2 separate regions of the Homo sapiens genome follow, and region 2 is linked to region 1. The links come from fine-mapping of genetic effects on gene expression. A gene starts in region 1. The other region holds a variant in brackets. All regions are shown on one strand. Distances are from middle to middle.

Evidence for each region.
Region 2: its variant is fine-mapped to the expression of DCTN2 in whole blood (INTERVAL, PIP 0.95).

What each region holds. Positions count from the first base shown.
Region 1 is chr12:57,543,902-57,549,276 of GRCh38, forward strand. DCTN2 (dynactin subunit 2) reads right to left here and starts at 3,291. Exons shown (of 14, transcript NM_001261413.2): 1 at 3,127-3,291; 2 at 2,127-2,195. The coding sequence starts at 3,162. RefSeq lists an enhancer at 3,420-3,559.
Region 2 is chr12:57,579,939-57,585,313 of GRCh38, forward strand. It overlaps KIF5A (kinesin family member 5A), which reads left to right. Exons shown (of 29, transcript NM_004984.4): 24 at 1,018-1,234; 25 at 1,477-1,630; 26 at 1,932-2,014; 27 at 2,664-2,691; 28 at 3,163-3,277; 29 at 4,280-5,375. The coding sequence ends at 3,241. Among named protein-coding and RNA genes, the nearest start is that of PIP4K2C, 8.6 kb to the right of the region's middle. The variant T/C (reference allele first, on the strand shown) is at 3,108.

The sequences.
Region 1 (5,375 bases):
GCTCTGGGGGAGAAACAGCCAATCAGAGCTGCACAGTCAGGTTCTTCCACACCTGGAATGGGTGTCATCTCCTTTTTATTAAGAGATATCCCAGTATCTTCAAAAGGGAATGACAATATGTATTTTTTTGTTTAGAAAGAGGATTACTGTGAAACTACCTGTTTGTATCACAGCGACAAAAGGACTGAGTTCTATTCATTATCTCACCATGAAGGGCAGAAGCCTAGGCCTAAGTTGAACAGTCTGAACTGTGGTAGTGCAGTAAAGTTCTCAGCATACAGCTGTCTCTTGGCAACTGTGGGAGACTGGTTCCAGGACCTCCCTTGATACCAAAATCTGCATATGTTCCCATCTTCTATATAAATTGGCATAGTAACTGCATATAACCTACCTACACCCTCCTGTATACTTTGAATCATCTCTAGATTACTTAAAATACCTAGTACAATGTAAATGCTATGTAAATAGTTGTTATATTGTATTTTTAAATTTTGTTTTTTTTTTTATTGTTGTACTGGTTTTTTTTTTTTTGAGATGGAGTCTTGCTCTGTCACCCAGGCTGGGGTGCAGTGGCGCAATCTCGGCTCACTGCAACCTCCACCTCCCAGGTTCAAGCAATTCTCCTGCCTCAGCCTCCACAGTAGCTGGGACTATAAGCGCTCGCCACCACGCCTTGCTAATTTTTATATTTTTTAGTAGAGACGGGGTCTCAAACTCCTGGCCTCAAATGATCCACCTGCCTCAGCCTCCCAAAGTGCTGGGATTACAGGCATGAATCACCACACTGGGCCTATTTTTTATTTTTAAAAAATATTTTCCATTTGTGATTGGTTGAATCCATGGGTTTGGAACCCATAAATACAGAGAACCGATTGTATACACTCCTATTCTGTGAGGACAGAGGCAGCTTCCTATAAGATGCCTCTTGGAGTGACAGGTGCACACCCAGGTCCTTGAGCAACAACATCATCTGCATTATCTCCAAGATACTCAAGCTTAGGGGATAGATTGGCATGCCAGCAAATACAGAAGCCACAAGGAACACACCACTGGGAGAAGGGACAGAGAAGGTGTTTCCCACAATGTAAGAACCACTTCCACATGGGGGAGTCAAATAAGAAATAAGTGAGTACGCCAAGCCACACATTGTAAGCCAGCAGTCAGCATTCCCCAGAATTAACCAGCCCCACAGACATAGCCACAGGACTTACAGACAAGCATACTGAGCCTGCATATTGCAATGACTCTTGGACACATCTTTACTGAGAACTCACATCATCAATGTGATCCCAGCCCAGCTGTCTTCAGAAATAATAGAACCTAAAACACATCCTATAAACACACCTCTTGGCACTTAAACAGAGTTTTTACTATGTTGATTTCCATTCACTCAATTTTTTTTTCCTTCTATATGTTTCCTATATGTATCCTAATTCCCCATTAGTCTGGGGCTCATTGGGGGCAGAGACATTTCTTCCTCTGCATTGCACAAAAAAAACCACAGAATGAACACACTCAATAAACCATACTAAATGTTTCCCCTCACAGTTAAAATGTATCCGTACCTAATTACTCCATCCTCAGAATTCTCGGATCTAAAAATGCAACCACAGTCTCACATCCGCTGATGTGAAATATTTACATTCTTCCTCAAATTTGTTTTGCTCTAAAATCTTGGAATCACTTTCTTAATTCCTTGCCCAATGGATACTGGATATTCATATGGAAAAAGTATTTCTCCATATTTCAAAGTCTAGTTCTTGGTAGCAGTTTATTACAAGTGCCCAGGCTTCATGATTCATTTCCATGGGTTAGAACCCAGGGGCCTAAGTCACTAGCTCCAAACCTGTTTTGAGATATTTCAATTTTATTTAAAAGGCCCAAGAATCAGGGCTTTGCAAACAGATGTTGTTAGCTGTAATTCCGCTGACTTGACTCTCCCTCCTGCCATTGCTCATTGGTGGCTGCAAGCCCAGCAAGGTCTTTGCAAGCCCTGCAACCTATATACCACCCAGGCTGGGGTTGGCATACCCGCTTATTGCTGTAGCTCCCCCGAGAAAGGGAAGGACCTGTCTAGGGGAGAAAGGTCAGAGTCCGGAGGAGTCTGTGGCAGCACACATTCTTACCGCATCGAACTCCGCTTGATCATCCTCAGGTAGGTCGCTAGTTTCATAAACATCTGGCTCATTCCTGGCCTGCAGGTAGAAGCAGTGACCACCCAACCTCACTACCCAGCATCCAACAACACCCCTTCCCCCACTCCATTTGAATAAGCTAACAGAGAAGGCGGGGTGTGATGTCAGGGTTCTGTCCTTTCTCCTCCACCTGCCCCGTGAGTCAACAGTATGTCAGTTCCCATGTCTCAAGGGGTAGGGATGACAGCGGAAACAATTGGGACCTGACAGTAAACGGTGAGTGTAAGTGATAGCAACGATGTTACCCTAAATCTAGAGGCGGGCAGGTCCTTGGCAATCACTATTGCCAAAGAAGGTGAAGGCTATCCTCCAATTAGGCCCCGTACACCACCACCCTGGCACAAGGATTGAGAGTGACTCAGGACCTTAGTACTCAAGGTCCTGTGTCCCAACCCTCACCTTGAGAAGCAGGCAGGGCAGCACAAAAGGAAGGTACACGCCAGGATTGTCATGGGAGTGGGGGCTGGGGGAGGGCATAGGTTCCCTCAAGGATAGAGCTCCCCATCTGGCACAAGAGGGTTCTGCCAGATGGCAGAACCTCTTCCTTGGCAGGATGAAGGCCATCGTTAAGTGGTCTGGTGTGTGTGTCTGGGGTAGCGATGGGGTCTTATGGAGAGATTTGGGGGGGACATGGGAGGCGTTGACACGGATGGTGGAAAAACTCAGGCACAAGAGGTCAGTACCCGGAGTCGATTTCTGGGCCGAGCTACCGGCGACTGCCGGAAAGGGGGCCTGGTGCGCCGTCCGGCGGCCCGGCCCAGTCGGGTCAGAAGAGTTCGGGGGGTGCTGAGGCCGATCGGAGAACGAGCGGCGGGAGCCCTTGGGCGGAGGATGGGCTGCAGGCGGGAGGGGTCGCGGGCTGGTTTCTGCTGGGGGTCCTTGGGAGGTCGGGGGCGCGGTCCTGGGGAGCCGGGGCCGGTCCTGTACTCACAATGCCGGGAAGGTCGGCGTATTTAGGGTCCGCCATGGCGGCGGCGAGACGGGCTGGGGGACCCGGGCCTCGGTGGAGCCGGGGCCGGTGTTCGGGTAGGGGAGAGGCTGGGTTCGGGTCCCGGGCTAAGGCGGCGGCAAAGGGAGCGGCAGATGAGCAGGAAGTCTCGCGACAGCAGTAGCACAGCAGAAGGGTAAAGCAAAAGTCGCGAGAACAGCCCTGCTGCCACACCCCTGGAGAGGCCGGGATTGGGGAGAACGAGGCCAGGGAATGAGGTAATGGCCAGGGGACGCCGCCTAGGATTGTGGGATGTGTAGTTTTGGTGTACTGGAGCTTGGGCGGGGAGCGACAATAACGAACCTTGGGGAGCTATTTCATACAGCCTTTTCTCTCACTTTTACAGCAAGTCAGTGAAAGAACATTTATAATTCCTGTTTGGGGCTCCCAGGAATAAAATGACTAGATTAAATGATACAGGTAGTCATACTGTGACACAGCCGGGGTTTCAAAAACAAGAAGTTTGCTTGATACTGTGTATTATAAAAACAAAATAAAAACAAGAAGTAAAATTTAGTAAACGCGTAGTGTATGTTAGGAATGAAAAAGTTAGGCAATCTTCTCAAGTAAGGGCTTTCAGATAATTTGAATTTCAGATAATAAGTAGGTGTGTGTGTGTGGTGTGTGGTGTGTGGGTATACTAACCCCCCAAAAATTAAGTATCTGAAATTCACATTTAACTGGGCATCCTGTTTTTGTTTTTTGTTTTTCAAATCTGGCAATTCTATCTGAAGTTCATAAGTAGGTAAGTGGTGTCTCCATGTCTGTCTGAACACTCTCTGGGCTCTTAACTACTTCGTTAATAGTTCTCAGACTTTTATTTATTTTTCAATTTTTTCAATTTTGTGGGTACACAGTAGGTGTATGTATTTATGGGACACATGAGATATTTTGATACAGGCATGCAATGTGAAATAAGCACATCATGGAGAAGAGGGTATCCATCCTCTCAAGCATTTATCCTTTAAGTTACAAATAATCCAATTACTCTTTAAGTTATTTTAAAATGTACAGTTGAGTTATTCTTGACTATAGTCACCCTATTGTGCCATCAAATAGTAGGTCTTATTATACTTTCTAATTTTTTGTACCTATTCACCAACCTTACCTTCCGTTCTCAGACTTTTAAATTTCATCGTTCAATAAAATTAAAACAACTACAAACCTTGAAGATTTGCCTTTTTATTTTATCAAGTAAGTATATTACAAATAGAAAACCTATTATTTACTGTCACCATCATTACTTGGTAGAAAAGCAAGAAGGACACACTCAGAATAAAAGATAGTCCTTTGAAACTTATCAAATCCATCTTTATATTAAAAAAAAACTCACCATTGTTCTTTTGGAGGTGAGGGCATACTCAGTGAACTTTTGTCTCTGACCAGTGACCCTCCATGGACTGGCATTTTGAAACCCCTTTACTAAAGATGCCACCTTGGAGCCCCTGGGGACCCAAGGATGGGATGTTTCCCAGGATGTTTCCTGAGCTTGCAGGATGCTGCAACACTTAGAAATTGTGCCAAACCAAGTGACTAGAGAGTTCCTGAGTTCGGAACTCGTTGTCTTTCTTTCTCCTGGCTCCTCCCCAAGCCTCTATCCCTTTCTCCATAGTCCTACAGCTTTCCTGTCCCATTCCTTATGTTGGACTCTTTTCTTTCAGTTCCCTTAAGATTCAAGGTAGGTTAGAGGTGTAGCCCCAATGTGGGAAACCCCCTGAGTTCTGAATAGTTAGGTCTTGTCTGGCCAGGCTATCAGCCTCTTACTTTTGTCCCATAGTGTCTTAAGTGACCTTAACCACTCACCAGACAGTTGCTGAGCAGAACTTTCCTTTCCTCCTCCTTCTCCCATCCACCCTGCCCTTCCTCTTTGCCTAGAACCTCAACTCCTGCAGTCCAACTCTCTGTTGGCCAGCAGAGGCCTGTGACATGGAGAAAAATCAATTTGGCCAGCTTCTTGGTGGTTCTTTCCAGGGGCTGCAGCAGGAGTCTGACCCAAAGGAAGGAAGGACAAGGAATCTCTGGGCTTGGCATTTCTTTCGTTTTTCTTCCCCCACACCTTTTTTTTTTTGGCCAGGGAAGGGGGCTGAAGTATTGGGACTCTATCCTCCAATGGTTACTGAGACAGAAAACACACACTCCCGTAGGTATCTGAATTTGCCTGAAACCCAAATGCCGGCTTTGCCTCAGACTTC
Region 2 (5,375 bases), 36 kb after region 1:
TCACTACAATTTCCTACCTCAGCAGACACAAGAGTAAAAAGGAAAAGGAGATAAAAACTTCTCAGTTAAGAGAATCTTAACAGCCAGGACTATAGCCCTATATCAATTAAGCTAAAGTATTGTCACAGCAAAACATTGCTTATACTCCATAAATTGTCCAAATGGAAACTGCATGGAAGGGTTTCTAGCTTGTCCCCTTGAGCCCCCAGTGTTCCCCGCTATGCTGATTTACCCGCTGTCTTCCAAGGCCCTGCTCCTTTTGCAACCTATAGTGCCCCCAGTCATTGTGTGGAACCTGTAAAAAGATCAGGAAGTCTTTTCGGGCTGCAGGGTGGTTGCTCCCATGCTCTAGCTTAATTTCACTGGGGGAGGGATAACCCAGGAAGTCCTTGAATGTGAAGGTAATGAGTGCAAATGTTTGTGAGACCTCAAACATTTTCTTTCCTTCCTACGGGGCGGGCTCTGCCTGTCTATATGTGTATGTCAGGGGCTCCTGAATTCCAGCTTCTGCTCCTGCTCTGCACTGCACCTGCCATGCACAGATTCTCCTCAATGCCACAGCCACCAAACTGCTACTGTGCCCTTGCTGCCCCACCCTTTGCATGCCCACAAAGCCCTCTCTGGGGAAGCGGGTCCCTCATCCCCATGGCCGCCCTGGGGCTATTGATCTGGCACATGCTGGGAGATGTGGGGGAAACCAGATGGAGACAGGACAAGGCGCTCTCACAAGAGTTCTGGGCTGCAGTGGAGATGGCAGGTTTTACTGCCTAGAAAATTATATAACTTTTAAATGCCTGACCACCCACCCTTCGCTCTGGGAGAAGGAATGAGCTGGACAGAACAGTCCATTACATAAAGGCAATGAGGCCTTTTGAGGAAATGACATGGTCTCCATCTTCTCTGACTCCTGATTTTTCTTTATTCTCTCTCCTCACCCCTGTCCCCTACGCTCCTCTGGGTGACCGTCTTGGGTCACTTGCCTTCCTTTCCACTTCTTCCCTTTGGCTTGCCCCATAGCTGGTACGTGACAATGCAGATCTGCGTTGTGAGCTTCCTAAATTGGAAAAACGACTTAGGGCTACGGCTGAGAGAGTTAAGGCCCTGGAGGGTGCACTGAAGGAGGCCAAGGAGGGCGCCATGAAGGACAAGCGCCGGTACCAGCAGGAGGTGGACCGCATCAAGGAGGCCGTTCGCTACAAGAGCTCGGGCAAACGGGGCCATTCTGCCCAGATTGGTGAGTAGGTGTTAGCAGGCAAGGTGGGAGTATCTCCTGAAGCAAATTTAGCAAATTGCTAATTGCCAAGCAACTAGATTATTGCTTCTTACCTACCCCTAGCCTCATCCCACTTCCCCCCAAAAAGTAAAAAAGTGATTATGTTACAAGCAACTCAGTTCAACCCCAGCTAAATGACCTCAGGGACCAGGGCAAATGCAGGGTCATAGCCTCCTCATGGTTGTTTTCTTTCTTTATTGCAGCCAAACCCGTCCGGCCTGGCCACTACCCAGCATCCTCACCCACCAACCCCTATGGCACCCGGAGCCCTGAGTGCATCAGTTACACCAACAGCCTCTTCCAGAACTACCAGAATCTCTACCTGCAGGCCACACCCAGCTCCACCTCAGATATGTAGTGAGTGACCACACGTGTGGGTTGGAGTCCCACCCAAAGCTCCCTGGACCCTAGAAGGCATAGGGTGGGGGCAGTTATTGGTTGTGGCTTAATTATTTTCCTAAACCCTTTCTCAACTTCATGCCTATGATTAGAAGGTAGGTGTCTGCCCTCCCAGCCTGTGGCCATGTTTGTTTTCCTCTGCTCTCTGGGGATGGGGAGGGCTGAGCAGCTCTATCACTGAGGATGAGTGTGGATTAGTGGTCCTCAGACTAGTGGAGGGTGGGTGTCAGAGGCTGCCTCTTTCCTCTGCTCCATCCAGCTTTGCAAACTCCTGTACCAGCAGTGGAGCCACATCTTCTGGCGGCCCCTTGGCTTCCTACCAGAAGGCCAACATGGACAATGGTGAGTGAAAAAGATGGGTAATCCCACCTTTGGGGTCCTCAGGGCAAGTTGAGAGGCATAAAAGTAAGTGACCTTAGTGTACAAAAAACACTGACTGAACCTTTCTGGTGTGCCAAGGCTTCAAATAAAAAAAAAAATACATATAGCCAGGTGTGGTGGCATGCACCTGTAGTCCTAGCTACTTGGGAGGTTGAGATAGGAGGATTGCTTGAGCTCAGGAGCTTAAGGCTGAAGTGCACTGTGAATACACCTGTGAATAGCCACTGCACTCAGCCTGGGCAGCATAGTAAAGCCCCATCTCTAAAATAATAATAATAACACATATGAAGAAAAAAGTGACCCTGTACCTACAGCCTGAGCACTGCCCAGCCCTTTAGGTCTCAGGCTGCCTGGGAGTGGATTCCTCCTATTACCACGCCAATCCCAGCCCTTGCCTTCCAGTTCCCTTTTCCTCTCCTTGGTGAGGGGCTGCAGAAACTTTTTCTCGAACAAAATAATGATGTAGCTTGGGATAACTAAGGAGAAAGTGTCACAGCTTATCTTTTTCTCTAAGGGATTAAGATGGGAGAGGGTTTGCGCAAACTGTTTCTAACACCCAATCTCCTTTTTTCTTCTTCTAATCCTGTGTTCTCAATGATGATCTCTTCAGGAAATGCCACAGATATCAATGACAATAGGTACAACAGTCCCCACTACCCCTGGGTTCTCTGGGTGGGACCAGAAGAAATGATTAAATTTCCCTTGTGCCCCACTTGGAGGTTCCTGGAGCCTTTGGGGAAGGGGGAGGGAGTGAGACTCATTCTTTTCATCACTGTGTTGTCCAGGAGATCCAGTCATTCCCCTGCCTCAGTGCAGAATATCTCCCCTCCTCCAATCCCATCTGTGGCTTCTCCCTATTCCAGTGATAAGGTCTGGACGAAAACAACGTGGGCATCTGACGACTGGGTTTCTCTCCTACCTTTGGAAGCCTTGTGACATTGGACAAGTCATTTACATCCCTCTGGCCTTGAGTTTCCCTGTATTCCTGTAAAACACAAATAGTCCCTGCCGTTTGTGATCTCACAGGGACACTCTCAGAGCAGAGTAACCATGA[T/C]GACAGGAATACTTTAATTTCTATGGAGCTGATCATGGTGGGTCTCTTCCTCCAGGAGTGACCTGCCGTGTGGCTATGAGGCTGAGGACCAGGCCAAGCTTTTCCCTCTCCACCAAGAGACAGCAGCCAGCTAATCTCCCACACCCACGGCTGCATACCTGCACTTTCAGGTAGCGTCAGGCTGCTTCCTCGGACCAGCCTCAGGTTGCTTCCCTTCTTGCTGACAGCCTCTTTGGTTTTCCTGCTGCTGCTTCTTTTTTTTTTTATCACCTCAAAACTTTAATTATGTAGTTACCCCTCAACTCCTGCTTTCCCCTGTTGGGGGCTACACCTGTGCTGCCCCATGTAATCTGGACGTTGACCTCCCGTGCCCCCTTTTGCTTTCCGTTAGGCTACAGTGGTAACCACAGTACTGTCTTTTTGCCACTAGGGGTCACTGTCACATGTCCAAAGAAGTGAGCTTGGCCGCTGTAGATTAGAACCACAGGGGTGGTAGACTGCAGATCTATCAGGAGACCCTAGGGGGCCATCTCAACCCCACCTCTTCCTCCACCCTGAAATAATTTTGGATGGATAGGTGTTTTTGGAACTAAGACATCTCCAGTTAAGGCGATGTTTGCTTCACGCCTGCACCTGTGTCCCATCCTCTTCCCATCTGTATATGCCACCAGTAAGCTTTAGGAAACGCCCCACGAAATCAGTCAGCGCTCCCCTCCCATCTTGCTCAGTGGAGGTGGCAAAGCCCCTCTTTTTCCTCCTCTGTCCCCAGGTGCTCTCCTCTAGCAGCACAGGAACCTTCTTTGTTCTTGTGTGTCACTGGGTTTCTCACCAAGGTTGCTTTAGGGCCCAGAAGTGGCACAGAGAACATGGCCAGTCTCTTACTGGGCTGCATCTAAGCTGAGCCCTCTCCAGGGGTTTCCCAGAATAGTAAACCAGGCACACACAGGCAGAAAAGTCTGAGAAGCAGAGAAGTAGGAATGCAGAAGAGGAGTTGGGGAGACCTAGGGGTGGAGGTGCAAGCCTGGGTCACGGGGGGCGGTGGTAGGGGGGTCTGCTTGTTGGTATTAAAGGAACAGGACAGTAAACCAAAGTGTGTGCAGATGCCACCTGTTCCTGTTCTGTGACTGAGCTACAAGCTGGGCCCTCACACCCTCTTTCTCTTTCTTTCCCAGTTTCTAAGAGGGACTGAGGCCTCTTCTCAGCATGCTGCAAACCTGTGGTCTCTGATACTAACTCCCTCCCCAACCCCTGTTGTTGGACTGTACTATGTTTGATGTCTTCTCTTACTTACTCTGTATCTCTTTGTACTCTGTATCTATATATCAAAAGCTGCTGCTATGTCTCTCTTCTGTCTTATTCTCAAGTATCTACTGATGTATTTAGCAATTTCAAAGCATAGTCTACCTTCCTTATTTGGGGCAATAGGGAGGAGGGTGAATGTTTCTTCTTTCTCATCTACTCGTCTCACACTGAGTGGTGTTAGTCACTGAGTAGAGGTCACAGAGATGACAAAAGGAAAAATGGGAGCTAGAGGGTTGTGACCCTTCATACACACACGCACGCACGCACACAAACATGCACACACGCATGCACACACACAAAGCCTTAAGCAGAAGAATGTCTTAGCATCATGAGACAGAGAAATAGACTCTTCCTCCCTCCTCTTTCACATATAGCACAGGGGAAGGTAAAATGGAAGGGCTGCTAATTGAGACATATAATTTTCTTCATACACCCCTCACCTTAATCAAAGGATTCAGGTGTTACTTCTGCCCTACAAAGTCTGCCTTTTGCCTCCCTCTTCCTGTTTTCCCCTGGACTGAGAAATGGGTTGCTCAAGGGACCATTTCCCTTTTTCTTCAAGCTCCTTTTGATATTCCCTGCCCCAGAGCTCATGACCAGAACCCAGAGCTGATTTAAAATATTTTGAAAAATGGAGGAGGCAGACTGCTCCCAGCAGCCTGTCAATGGCTGCTCATCTGTCCATGGAGATGGTTACAGGCAGGTGTAGTCAAAATGATTGATTCCTTGGGTTTGGGGGTGAATAGGCTGGGAAATTTCTGAGCCTTTTTTTTTTGTCACAGTGCCCTCAAGTTGAAGTGATGAGCTGGATTTCTTTCTTGTTCCATACTGGGCGGCATGCTCCTCCCATCTCCACCCCTTGGTTTGGGGGCTTCCAGCTCATTGGCAAAATCTCTCTAGTTGCCTTCCTTTCAAGCTGGAGCCTGACTTTTCCCCAATGTACATTTTTTTTTTCTCCACAAAGAG